Linked DNA regions of Homo sapiens: all the other regions are linked to region 3. The links come from fine-mapping of genetic effects on gene expression. A gene starts in region 3. Each other region holds a variant in brackets. All regions are shown on one strand. Distances are between the middles of the regions. Region 1 overlaps TFIP11 (tuftelin interacting protein 11). Region 2 holds the start of TFIP11 (tuftelin interacting protein 11). Region 3 holds the start of HPS4 (HPS4 biogenesis of lysosomal organelles complex 3 subunit 2).

Region 1 (4,263 bases), 22 kb before region 3:
TTTTTATTAGAGATAGGATTTTGCTATGTTGGCCCAGCTGGTCTTGAACTCCTGGCCTCAAGCCTCCCAAAGTGCTGAGATTATGGGCATGAGCCGCTGTACCTGGCTCCAGGGTTTTTTATTGTAATTTTTTCTTTTTTAAACCACACAGTACAAATATATCAATTTTATTTTATACAAAAAAGACCTGAGGTTAATGGCTTAATGTAAGTACTTGAAGCAGTCAGAGTTTAAATCAATATATTTCATTTTATAGAGTTAATTTCTTATTTCTTAGGGGACTTTAGTGTAATTTTCTTTTCTTTTTTTTTTTTTTTTGGAGATAAGGTCTCACTCTTTTGCCCAGGCTGGGGTGCAGTGACATGATTATAGTTCACCGCAGCTTCAACTTCCTGGGCTCAAGCAATCCTCCCATCTCAGCTTCCCATGTAGTTAGGACCACAGGCTTGCACAACCATGCCTGGCTAATTTTTATTTATTTTTTTTTTATAGAGACGAAGTCTCACCATGTTGCCCTGGCTGGAAATTTTCACATTCAAATAAATTTAATGGCTAGGAGCTTTTTCTAAGTTTGATTAATATAATTGTTACATGCTTTACATTCATATAATCTTTCAATGGGTTTTATTTATGATTTTCCATCAAAATTTCTGCTCCTGTTGGATTTTTGTACTTGAAATAGTTTTCAAAACAATTGCTTTTTATGATAAATTAATTTTTTAAAATGTAGGAAAATTGTATTATCACATCATATTTTGAATTTGTAATCAACCCTACATTGATGTGATAACTCTTCAGCCGTAGAGGGATATGTCAGGTAAAATGTTAAATGTGACTACAGGAAGCCAAATCTGGGGTCCTTTGGATTTTTTGACACATTAAAAAATGTGTTACTTTTTTAAAAAACCTCCCATGAGATTCACTCTAAGGAGTCTTCAAGCACGTAGTTTCTGCAAAAGGATCGCTGCAGAGAAAAGAGTTCTTTACCGACCTGGTGGGGCTTTGTTTCTGTGCCTACAGGGCCCGTGACTACTCTGCGCCAGTCAACTTCATCAGCGCAGGGCTCAAGAAAGGGGCAGCGGAGGAGGCAGAGTTGGAAGATTCTGATGACGAAGAGAAACCTGTTAAGCAGGACGACTTTCCTAAGGATTTTGGACCAAGGAAGCTAAAAACGGTAGTCTCTATTGCAGGATTGTGACCCTAGGAATATCCTTCAAAGGTCATTGTGGCCCAAGCATTTTCTAGCCAGGGAGAAACTCATCTGGAATGAATTTCGTGAGTGTCTCCTTTTGGTGGCAGGTTTCTGTGAGTTGTGAAGTGTGTAGTGCAGTCTCTTCCTTCCTGACACGTTATCACACACATTTTTGGTTCATATGACACTTTTCATAGTGCTGTATAACTTAGGCCATTTTCCTGTTGGCCAAGCTTTCTTAGATTTTTCTTCATTTTGTTTTTCCATTAACTAAGCTTTGATTTTTCTTTTTTGCAGGGTGGCAATTTTAAGCCCAGCCAGAAAGGTTTTGCAGGAGGAACCAAATCTTTCATGGACTTCGGCAGCTGGGAAAGACACACAAAAGGAATTGGACAGAAGCTTCTTCAGAAGATGGGCTACGTCCCTGGACGGGGCCTCGGGAAGAATGCACAAGGTATTGCACCTTTGTCGTCTTGCATGATGGAGGAGGGCAGGCATAGGGAAGGAGAGGGGCGTTGGGAGAGGAGGTTTGCTTTTCCCTTTTAAAAGCACTTTATCTCTCCAGCCTGGTTTGCCAGCACAAGACATTTGCGTTCCTAAGCTACCTTGCTTTATCAAAGCTCAAGTTAAATAAGTAATTGTTTCAACAGCAAGGAAAGGGTTAGGGTCTAAAACAGGCTGCAAACAGGTTGAAAACAGGCTTTTTTTCTGGTCCTGACCAGTGCTTCTAAAAACAAAAATGAGGCTGGGTGTGGTGGCTCATACCTGTAATCCCAGCACTTTGGGAGGCCAAGGCGGGTGGTGGATCGCTTGAGGTCAGGAGTTCAAGACCAGCCTGATGAACATGGTGAAACCCCGTCTCTACTAAAAATACAAAAATCAGTTGGGTGTGGAGGCATGTGCCTGTAATCCCAGCTACTCAGGAGGCTGAGGCAGGAGAATCGCTTGAACCCAGGAAGTGGGGGTTGCAGTGAGCCGAGATCAC[T/GCCACTGCACT]CCAGCCTGGGCAACAGAGCGAGACTCCATCCCTGAATAAATAAATAAATAAATAAATAAATAAATAAATAAATAGAATAAATAAAAACAAAAATGAATTAGTTGCTAATATTTAAAAAACAGACAATTTCACCTAAAATTCTAGATTTTGCCTGGCAGTAGTTAGTTGAGGCAAGTGAGAACTGCTCCTGGGACGATGGACATGGCCTTCTCTTGGAGGCAGTCTCCATTACCCCCTGTTGTCTTCCACCCCAACCCACAGGAACTTTTCTTGGTCCCAGAGTCATTTGAGTTTGCCATCCCTACTCACAAGGGTTTTAATTTTGTGGAAATAACCCTATTTGTCCTTCAGGAATATCAGTAAAACATCGTGCATAGTTTTTGTAATAGCTAGAGCCATATGGCTATAAAACTGGCTGAGCAAATCCTGCATTGGTTACTTCCATCTTCCTCTAGTAGCCCAGTCTCCTCCTGTCTTCTCATGGCCAGCCCCATTGAGACACAGCCCCTGTCACACTCTTACCTTCTTGAGACCAAAGCCTCTCAAACCAAACAGTTGGATTCTTCCTACAGGAACATTTCCCCCTCTTCTTGAGCTATTTCCTATGCATGATTGCCAAGTAGATATAATCAAATGTATCCTACATATTCAAATTCCAGTCTCTAAATAATAATAATAACATTATTATTTTTTGAGACAGAATTTCACTCTTGTCACCCAGACTGGAGTGCAGTGGCACGATCTCAACTCATCTGCAACTTCCACCTCCTGGGTTCAAGTGATTCTCCTGCCTCAGCCTCCCGAGTAGCAGGGATTACAGGCACCCGCCACCACGCCCAGCTAATTTTTGTATTTTTGGTAGAGACAGGGTTTTACTGTGTTGGCCAGGCTGGTCTCGAACTCCTGACCTCAAGTGATCCATCCTCCTCGGCCTCCCAAAGTGCTGGGATTATAGGTGTGAGCCACTGCGCCTGGCCTCTAAATAATTATTAAAGTGAAATCCAGGTTATGTGTTGAAAACATTAGGTACATGAAAAATACATGAACTTGAGTAAAGATACACTGAATGAGAATGAGGGGACAGTTTTTTTGCTTTTTTTTGATACAAAGTCTCACTCTGTTACCTAGGGTAGAGTGCAATGGCATGGCATGATCATAGCTCACTGCAGCCTCAACCTCCTGGGCTCAACCCTGCCAAGTAGCTGGGACCACAGGCACACTCTGCTGTGCCTGGCTAATTTTTTCTTTTTTTGTAGATGGGGTCTTACTATGTTGCCCAGGCTGGTTCAAGACCTTGGCCTCCCAAAGTGCTAGGATTACAAGCATAGCCACCACATCTGGCCCAGGGATAGCTCTTATTTAAGACTTCAGTGGAACTAAATGGAAGGGGGGCAGGGATGGAAAATTTGGAGTCAGGGGAACGTCTTCATTGAAATGTTGTGGTCCTATTCGTAAACTCTTTTATGAGAAAAACAACGTTTATTTCCAGGGCTTAAACTTGTTATAAAAAAGTTAAACACAGGAGATAGGAACTCCTAAGTAAAATATGTGAGGAGTCTTATATTAAATTGCAGCTTCACTTCAGTCAGAATCAGTATAGTATTGGAATTATTGCATTTTCCCTAATAGAGGCTCCCAAAGAAGTGAAGCATAGAATTTAGTGTGCTGGAGTTCTCAGTTATAAATGTAGTGTTCTGTTTTCTTCCTGTCCACTAAACAATCCAAGTGGAAATGGAAATCTATTTGGGATATAAATAAACTAGTCAGCAGACTGTTCTGTGGTAGCATAAATGCTCATAAGTTTCAAATCACAAGGGACAAGAGTAGTGTTCTGAGGGCAGAGAATAGCTCTCCTTCCTGAGTAGCATGTTATTTTGTGGAAGGAGCAAGAAACTGTCATTTCACTGAGTGGCTGATTCACATACATGAATTGCTGTGATCGTAAGACTCTCTTTTTTTTTTGCTGAAATTCCTCAGGTATCATTAACCCAATTGAAGCCAAGCAGAGAAAGGGAAAAGGTGCTGTGGGGGCTTATGGATCCGAGCGCACCACTCAGTCCATGCAAGACTTCCCTGTGGTTGACT
Region 2 (4,000 bases), 31 kb before region 3:
TAATTATTTGTTAATGACAAATGAATAAATGAATGATGAAGGCTGTGGTTTCTCCCCTTACTGTGTTTTGCGGATATTTAATTTCCAGATAAACACCCCGAGCCTAAGGAACCTCATGTTCCAGCTTTCCATATAAGGATAGAGTCTTCACGAATTCTTGAAAGATAAGTAGGGTAGAAACCATCTGTAAGAAACATTTAGAGGGAAATCAAATTGCTAATCTCAGCTGATCTGGGTTCTCAATTCTGCCAAGTTAAGGACACCATATATATTTTTGGGACAAAATGCAAAATAAGAATAAGCCATGTGCAACTGTATAATGTCACTGTCCTAGAAAAAGTACATGTGCTAGTCTTTAAATATATCAGCTTTGAAATGCCACTTATGGATTGTTTCTATGGTACCAACCTATTTAAAGTTGTAACTAAGTGACGATATTTTTTTCCCGAAATCTTTTGTAGGCAATATGGAAAGTGTGCTGTATGGCATAGGCTGTAGAAATAAGAGGTTAGGAATGTGGACTCTGGGGTTATAACAAACTACCTTAGAAGGCTGAAGAATCAAAGAGATGATGTCTGCAGAGTTTGGCTCTGTGGCCCTGAACACACAGGAATCATGATGTGGGACCCCATGCATGGTTTTGCAAAGAAAGCACCTGCCTGGGAGTTTGAGCTCCTGGGTTTCAGGCCTGGCCCTGTCCTTAAACTCACTGTGTGGTGCTGGCACCTCCACTCTGCCAGGGGCTCCCCCACCGCCTCAGCTGCGAAAAGAGAGGTATAGACCCATGAGTGCTGGAGGGCCCTGCCAGACTCCTTCTGCCCAAGGAGCCTTGTTGCTTTGGCAACCCCTTCTGCGAAGGCCACATGTCTGAGCACCTCATTGGGAATGTAGAAATGAGTGTGGATGTTCCCAAATCTCAAAGCAATGTTTTTGTTTTTTTTTTTCCCCTCTAGGAAATGACAGGAGATCACGATAGATATGAGACCTTGAACCTAAAGCTCTGGTTGCCTTGTAAAACTTTTCCTTGTTTTTCAAAGGCTGGGCATTTGATCCCAGAAATCCTGAAAAACCATGGATTTTTGAGACTGAAAGGGGTATGACATTGGGTTTTTAAAAATGAAGGCTGGCGCAGTGGCTCACGCCTGTAATCCCAGCACTTTGGGAGGCCAAGGCAGGTGGATCACGAGGTCAGGAGTTCGAAACCAGCTTGGCCAACATGTTGAAACCCCATCTCTAATAAAAATACAAAAAGTAGCCAGGCGTGGTGGCGCACACCTGTAATCCCAGCTACTCAGGAGGCTGAGACAGGAGAATTGCTTGAACCCAGGAAGCATATGTTGCAGTGAGCTGAGATCGTGCCACTGCACTCCAGCCTGGGTGACACAGTGAGACTCTGTCTGGGGGAAAAAAAAATTAAAACAAATAAAAAAACAAAAATTAGCTGGGCGTGGCGGCGTAACGCCAGCTACTCGAGAGGCTGAGGCATGAGAATCACTACAGCTGCGCCTGTAATGACAGCTACTCGGGAGGCTGAGGCATGAGAATCACTTGAATCTGGGAGGTAGAGGTTGCAAATGAGCGAAGATTGTGCTGCTGCACTCTAGCCTGGGCGACAGAGTGAGACTCTGTCTCAATAAATAAATAAATAAATAAATAAGAATATAGCCACAATCCTTTAGAAAGCTCTTACCATGCCAGGAGCTTTACATGCACTAATTATCACTTTCTGTTTTTGTTTTTCTCTAAACAACTCTCTTAGATCAGTACTGTCACTATCCCCAATCTACAGATGGAAAAATTGAGGTGTAGAGAGGTGAAGCAACCTGCCCTCGGGCCCATACCTAAGAAGTAGCAAAGTCGAGATTTGGATCCTTGAAGTTTTTACTCCAGAGCTTTCATTTTAAGAAATTGCAAAAAAGTTATTAAGTACAGAGAGAAACATTTTCCCTGTAATAATTTGAAATTAAGGTGACCATTTGATGCCTTATCCCCTGCCAAATACATTGATTTACTTTCCAGCAAACAAGAACATCCTCTGATGTAACTTAACAGGCAACCATGAAAATCAGGAAATTAACACGGACACATCATTACCACGGCATTGTAGGCCCCATTTAAACTTTTCCAACTGTCCCT[G/A]TAACTTCCTTTCAAGCAAAAAGATCCAGTTCAGAATCATGTGTTGTGTTTAGTTGTCATGCCTCTTTGGTCCCCTCCAGTTTGGAACAGTTCCAGGGTCTATCTTTGATTTTCATGACCTTGGCACTTTCTAAGATTACAGTTTTGTATACAGCATGTCTCTTTACGTGGGTTTGTCTGATATATCCTCATGATTACATCCAGGTTATGGATCTTCAGCAGGAATATCACAGGGGTGATGTTGCAATCTTCTCAGGGCATCCTATCAAGTGCCACATAACTTCACTTTGTCCCATTCCTGACAATGCAGACTCTGATCACTAAATCAGAGCCTGCACTCTTAACTACTCCATGACAGTCCACAAAGGTCCCTTCTTCAGAAGCCACAAAGTGAGTTCCATTTGGTGAAGTAAATCCACTAGCATCAGTCCCTCATGATCAAAGTAATTGCAGCTCCATAAAATCTGCTGTAAAGCCATAAACATAGCTACAGAAAAGCCAAGCGTATGTATGCTTTTGGCTTTTGGGCTACAAACAGATGTAAATACATTCAGGCACAGACTAAAAACACTTTTCTCCTCTGTTTCCCTTACTCTGCTCCTGGCAGGGCTTGTAGTCTGTTAGACCCTCTCTCCCGGCCTTCAATGCTAAAACCACATTTTCCATTTCTTTCCTGAGTACATACTATGTGTCAGGCACAATGATTCTACATGTCACTAAGAATACAGAGATCATTAAGACACAGTCATCATTCCTAAGCAGCCCACATTTAACTGGGTACACAAAAATTGTTGTTTAATTCTTAACAACTACTTGATGGTAGACTTAAGTATTTGACTCCAAGTCCCGTGCTCTTTTTACATTCCAACAATTGCCTCTTGAATCTTTTCATCACATAGAGCAGAGAGAGAAAAATTAAGCAAAAATTAATAGCTAACACTTCTTCAGCACCTACTGTTACCAGGTACGGTTTTCATTGCCTACAGTTTTATCTTATTGAATCCTTAACCATTTTGCAGAAGAGAAAACAGGCTTAGATGTAATGACTTGCCCAAGGTCCACAGCTGCTAAATTGCACTCAAGGTTGGAACTCCAGAGCCTGTGGACACTTAAATGTCTACAAGGAGTCCTTGGGCTAGTGAGGGCTTCCCAGGGAGGGCCCATGACTGTTCTGCTCATTGTATCACATTGGCCTAGCACAGGTGAGGGGCACTTAGTATATTTTAATTAGATCAATGAATAAATTAATGAATTTACCAACCTGCTGGAAACGAAAAGAATGGAAACAGCTCCTGGAGAGAATACTTGGGAACTCCAGAGTTTGCCCATTCATTCCTTCATTCCCTCTTAAACTCCTGCATAAAGGCCACTGCCCTGTGCCCACGACGGTGCTTATACCGAGAGCGTCAAAGATACAGGAATCACAGTCTTGACCTTCATTATTCCCATTTGAATGCTGTGTCCCAGGCCCCTTATTGTCTCACAGTATTTACCACAACTACCGTATGGGCTAATCCTACATCTCTATTTTACAGATTTACAATCTCAGAGTGGTAAAGTCTCCTTAGGCCAAGGTGGCTCAGCGGATTCCACACCAGTCATCACAGGCTGAGCGTCACAGTACAAAGCAGGAGCGGCAGGGAGGCCGATTCCGCGGGGAAACCACTCCCCAGCTATTCTAGGCCTTGCAAATCCACCCCTCCTATCTAAGATCCCAGCCGGCCGCTCTGCAGCCATATCCGCCGTAGCGTCCCACGCTGCCCTGGCAGCCAGCAGGACATCCGCTGTCGACTAACGTCATTTCCGGCGCGCCGGCCACGGTGCTTCCGGGTTCTGGTGTAGGAGCGGCGTCTTCTCGCGCGGA
Region 3 (4,268 bases):
CTTTCCTGATCATGACCTGAATGCTTACAGAATGAGGTGCCCTGCAATGCAGGGCCCACCCTTACCAAGTGATAGGAGGGGGATATATGTTGAATATGTCCAGAGCCAGAGCACATACTGCTGGGGCTCAGAGACTGCAGGAGAGAGTATGCTGGAGGAGGTCCTTGATTCCCAGAGAGAGATCTGGGTCTATTCTCAGTCTACAACAGAGCCTAGCATAGAATTGCAGCTCAATAAATGGTTGTTAAGTGCTCAGAATTAGCCTTTCTGAGCTTTAGTTTCCTCATCTCTAAAATGGGGATAAAAATCATTCCCAACACGGAGGAGTTTAGAGGCATAAAATGGGTTAACATTCTTAGCCCAGTGTCTGGCACATAGCAGGTACTCAACAAATGGTATTTGTTATTATAAATAGTTTTAAGGGGAAAGTAAAGAGACAAAACCAAGTGTCTGGGCTTTCTTTATTCAAGTCAACTGGTTTTACAGACCCAGAGCAAAAGAAAGTCAACAGTGAATTAAAATGAACTGGATTTAAACTGACAAGCCACAGCCAGAGACAGTGATTATGGGGTTCAGAAAGGAGTACAGAGAATTGAAAGTCGGCCCAGAGGCTGCTGCACGTTTCTCACAGAGGGTAGAGAGTTCTGATGTACACAGGAATGCTTTATGAACTGGTAAATGCGTACACAGATATGCGTGTAAAATGCTGGCTCAATCTCTACTCAGAGCGATGGTGATTGCACCACACTTGGGTGTTGGGAGAAGCAAGGAGCTCCTGGGGAATACTGAAGCAGTTGAGGAGATCGTGACAGTGTCAAGGGATATGAAAAATGCCTTGAGTTTTCCAAACCCCTAGGCACATTCACTCTCACTGGCATCCTCTGAGAGCTTAAAAATAATCGCAGGTGCTTTTTATTCAGGCTGAGCCAAATGGTCAGCAACTTTCTCTTCAGAGGTAAACTCTGGGACATTACTGCCTCTTGACCCTAATTCTAGGGGAGAGGAGCACACAAAATTAATCTAATTTCTCCCCTTGTGACGGCCCTTCGGATGCTGATCTTAAGTGCTAACTAAAGCTGTTATTTATTGAGCCTAAACAAAACTGCGAATAAAGATAATAATACTAAATAACAATAATAAGTAACATTTATTGAGTGTTTCCTCTGTATTAGGCACTCTCTATGTACTTTCTAAGGTACAGAGCAAGGTATGTGAGAATCTGGGCTGGGATAAGCAACAAGCATAATGGAAAGCTGGAAGCACTGGTTTTTGTCACAAAGACCTGGGTTTGAAATCTGGTTCCACACATTTTCTTTGTCTCTTTGAGAATCAGTGAGCTACCAGGGTCCTAGTATGCCTGCAATGTTTAACATAAAGTGTGTAGAATGATTAAGCTAATGTCAGGCACATAGCAGCTGCCTGATGATAGCAGTCACGTGTTCATGTTGCTTCCCTCGTGTCACCACCACCAATAATATCAACATCGGCATAATATTAATAGCAAACACTGGCACAGTGCTTACCACGTGCCAGAAAATGGTTTCCGTTTACTAATTCATTGAATCCTCAAAACAAACCTACGTATGTACTATTTTCATCCCCATCTCACAGATGAGAAAACTGAGGCACAGAGATTATAAATTGTCCAAGGTCACGCAGCTGTAACCGTAATAAAAGGAAAGACGACCTTTAACTGAGCGCTTACTATAATCCACATCTTTAATGAGCTCGTTACCTACGTTAACTCTTCACAATAACTCCTTAAAGGGTGTGCATTATATCTCCACTCTACAGATGGGGAGACTGTGGCTCAGAATTGCCCATGGGCGCAAAGATTCCATCAGGGCCGAGCCTGCACTCACTCAGCCTCCCAGATGCGACGAAGCACGACTCCGCTGTCAGACTCGAACTCCGCCTCGGGGCCCCGGGGCGCCGCCTCTCTCCCCCGGGGCGCCGCCTCTCTCCCCCGGGGCGCCGCCTCCCTCCGCCGCGGCCGTCGAGCCGCGGAGCGCCTCTTCCGCGGAGCCGCCGCCTGCCAGGATTCCAGCGCCGCAGCTGCGGCCGCAGCCATTGGTCTCTGACGTCAGCGGCGTGCGGCGCACTCGGCACGTCATCGCCGCGCGCCGGCTTGCCAGGAGCTGGAGGGGGAGGTAGGCGGGGCGGCGCGTGACCTAAGGCCTCTCTGCCGCGCGCGCAGGTACGGGGCAGAAGTCGCAGGTACCCAGCTGCTGCCCACATTTCTGGTCCAGAGTCCCGAACCCCGAGCACTGGGATGCCTGGCTACTCCGGTGGGTGGGCGGCGCTCGGAGCGCGGGGATACCGAGGGGCGGGCCCCCAGCTTAGAGCGTGACCCGACCCCGCCTAATCCTTAGGCGTTCGCCCACCATTTCCCAGTCCCGTAGAGCTGGGGCCAGACACCGCACAGCCCTAGTGCTGTTACCAGTCGCTGCCTGCGCCCCGGGGGCTGCGCCCAGCAGCTTCCTGGCCCTTTTCCAGCCATTAGCGTCCGTTTTCCAGCCCTGCTGCCCCACTGAGGCCCCTTCCCACAGCAGTATCACCAGCCCCAGCCCCGCGTTGTTACTATTACTTCCCAGGCTACCAGATCCTTTTCTGCTCATGTTCCGACGTCTCTTCCTACTCCAGGGCCATTATTGGTCTCTTCTGGACCTTTCAGAGATAAGAGAGGACCTCGGTAGTGTAGGGCCCAGTCCTCTGGGAACAAGGGATGGGGAGTTTTAGGCTGCTGTCCTTGGTTCCAGTAACAGAGATACCCCCTCCACAGGCACCCAAATATGCTCCATAGAATACAATGAGTGTGGTCCTGTGGAGGCCCAATCCAAAATATCTAGAGCTGAGAAGAGATAGAGATTTTACAGGCCGTCAAATATTCAATGGGGGTCGTCTCTAGAGACTTTTAACAAACTGTATTGTGTACCCACAGATTGCAGAATGGTGAGCAAACATTTGAGACCATGTTGCTAAAGCATTAAGCTTGGAGAAAGTGACAGTAAGAATTAGACAATAGTTTTGAAGTGACCAAGAGGTTGTCACATGGAAGAATTAGACCTTGTTTTGTGTTTTCCTGCAGAGCGTTATCCAGACTAGCGAGTGGGAGGCAGATGTAAAATCTGGAACGCAGATTTTAGTTTGTTGGAAGGAGAAATGTAACATAGTGAACCACGCATCTCTGGAGGGTGTAAAGCAGAGACAGCCAAGGTAATTTTTGGAAAAGAGTGCAGGAGAGTAGAGTAAACGATGCCAGGGTTCCTTCCGACTCTGAAATTCCGTGATACACTGAGCTGTCTTTCTCTTGTGGAAGTTTGAAAGCCATTTGATAAAGTTCTCTTCATTTTTTAGAAATTTGCCCTGCTCTGGAATTCTGCATGTTCAGGTTACTTTTGGACTGTCAAGATGACAGTTCCTTAATTTGGGTTCCATTATTACCACAGCAACTGGTTTATTTGTATAGCTGTCCACACCTAGAGCATTTTCACCCTGTCATTTGATTTTATCTTCCGTGAAGCTTGTGGTGTGTTTCCCTTAACTGTTCGAGAAACTAAAGCCCTTACTCTGAAGTCTCTGCAAGCCTCCCTCTTTGATTTTGAAGCATGATTGTCACCCTCACAGAAAGCTCTTTTGAAATATACCATTCGTTTAATCCTGCTGGGTCACATGCTCTCTCACGAGTTGCTGAAATATCTATTCCTTGTGTTTATTTCAGAGCCAAGGCACTGATGTTTGAACTGGAAACTTCAAAACGTTTAATAAGAGTCTTCAGGATGGGTTTGAACTAGACAAGCTAGAAATTTCTTTAGAACACCAGCTCTAGCATGCATCTCCCACTTTTGGCTTTCCTGGAGAGGAGCTTGAAGAGGTGGTTCTGCAGACAGCCACAGTGATACTTAGGAAACCAGAGGAATGGATTTGACTTTTCTGCTAGGATTCTCTGTTATAGTTTCTCCCTGAGTTGTAAGAGGCATGGAAATATACATGAAACTGAAGAACCTGCAAGGAAGGGAAGTGGAACTTTCCATGCTGAGTGAAAACTAACCAAGTGGCAGTTGTGACTGAAAACACTGAAACCTACCACGTCCAGATTCACTGGATTGGGGGATAGAGGAACGGTCACAGCTAGGGAGAAAGAAGTGATACCGGAAAAGAAAACCTAAATGAAGAGAATGAGGATGACTGCACAGTAGATGGCCACCTCTACCTCCACAGAGGCAAAGTCAGCCTCGTGGTGAGTAACAAGGCCTGCCATGGCATAG

What was found. PIP is the estimated chance that this variant, and not a neighbour inherited with it, causes the effect.
Region 1: its variant is the best candidate, but not a certain one, in a credible set for the expression of HPS4 in fibroblasts (GTEx, PIP 0.78).
Region 2: its variant is the best candidate, but not a certain one, in a credible set for the expression of HPS4 in whole blood (INTERVAL, PIP 0.89).

What each region holds. Positions count from the first base shown.
Region 1 is chr22:26,503,686-26,507,948 of GRCh38, reverse strand. It overlaps TFIP11 (tuftelin interacting protein 11), which reads left to right. Exons shown (of 15, transcript NM_012143.4): 5 at 1,021-1,174; 6 at 1,490-1,646; 7 at 4,156-4,263. Among named protein-coding and RNA genes, the nearest start is that of TFIP11, 6.7 kb to the left of the region's middle. RefSeq lists an enhancer at 670-1,869. The variant T/GCCACTGCACT (reference allele first, on the strand shown) is at 2,178.
Region 2 is chr22:26,512,432-26,516,431 of GRCh38, reverse strand. TFIP11 (tuftelin interacting protein 11) reads left to right here and starts at 3,959. Exons shown (of 15, transcript NM_012143.4): 1 at 3,959-4,000. TFIP11-DT (TFIP11 divergent transcript) reads right to left here and starts at 3,900. Exons shown (of 2, transcript NR_144529.1): 1 at 3,398-3,900; 2 at 1,864-3,020. RefSeq lists enhancers at 3,137-3,674, 3,897-4,000. The variant G/A (reference allele first, on the strand shown) is at 2,137.
Region 3 is chr22:26,481,694-26,485,961 of GRCh38, reverse strand. HPS4 (HPS4 biogenesis of lysosomal organelles complex 3 subunit 2) reads left to right here and starts at 2,179. Exons shown (of 14, transcript NM_022081.6): 1 at 2,179-2,288; 2 at 3,722-4,240. The coding sequence starts at 4,200. It overlaps SRRD (SRR1 domain containing), which reads right to left and starts at 2,085. Exons shown (of 7, transcript NM_001013694.3): 1 at 1,863-2,085. The coding sequence starts at 2,071. RefSeq lists a silencer at 1,902-1,991 and an enhancer at 2,012-2,131.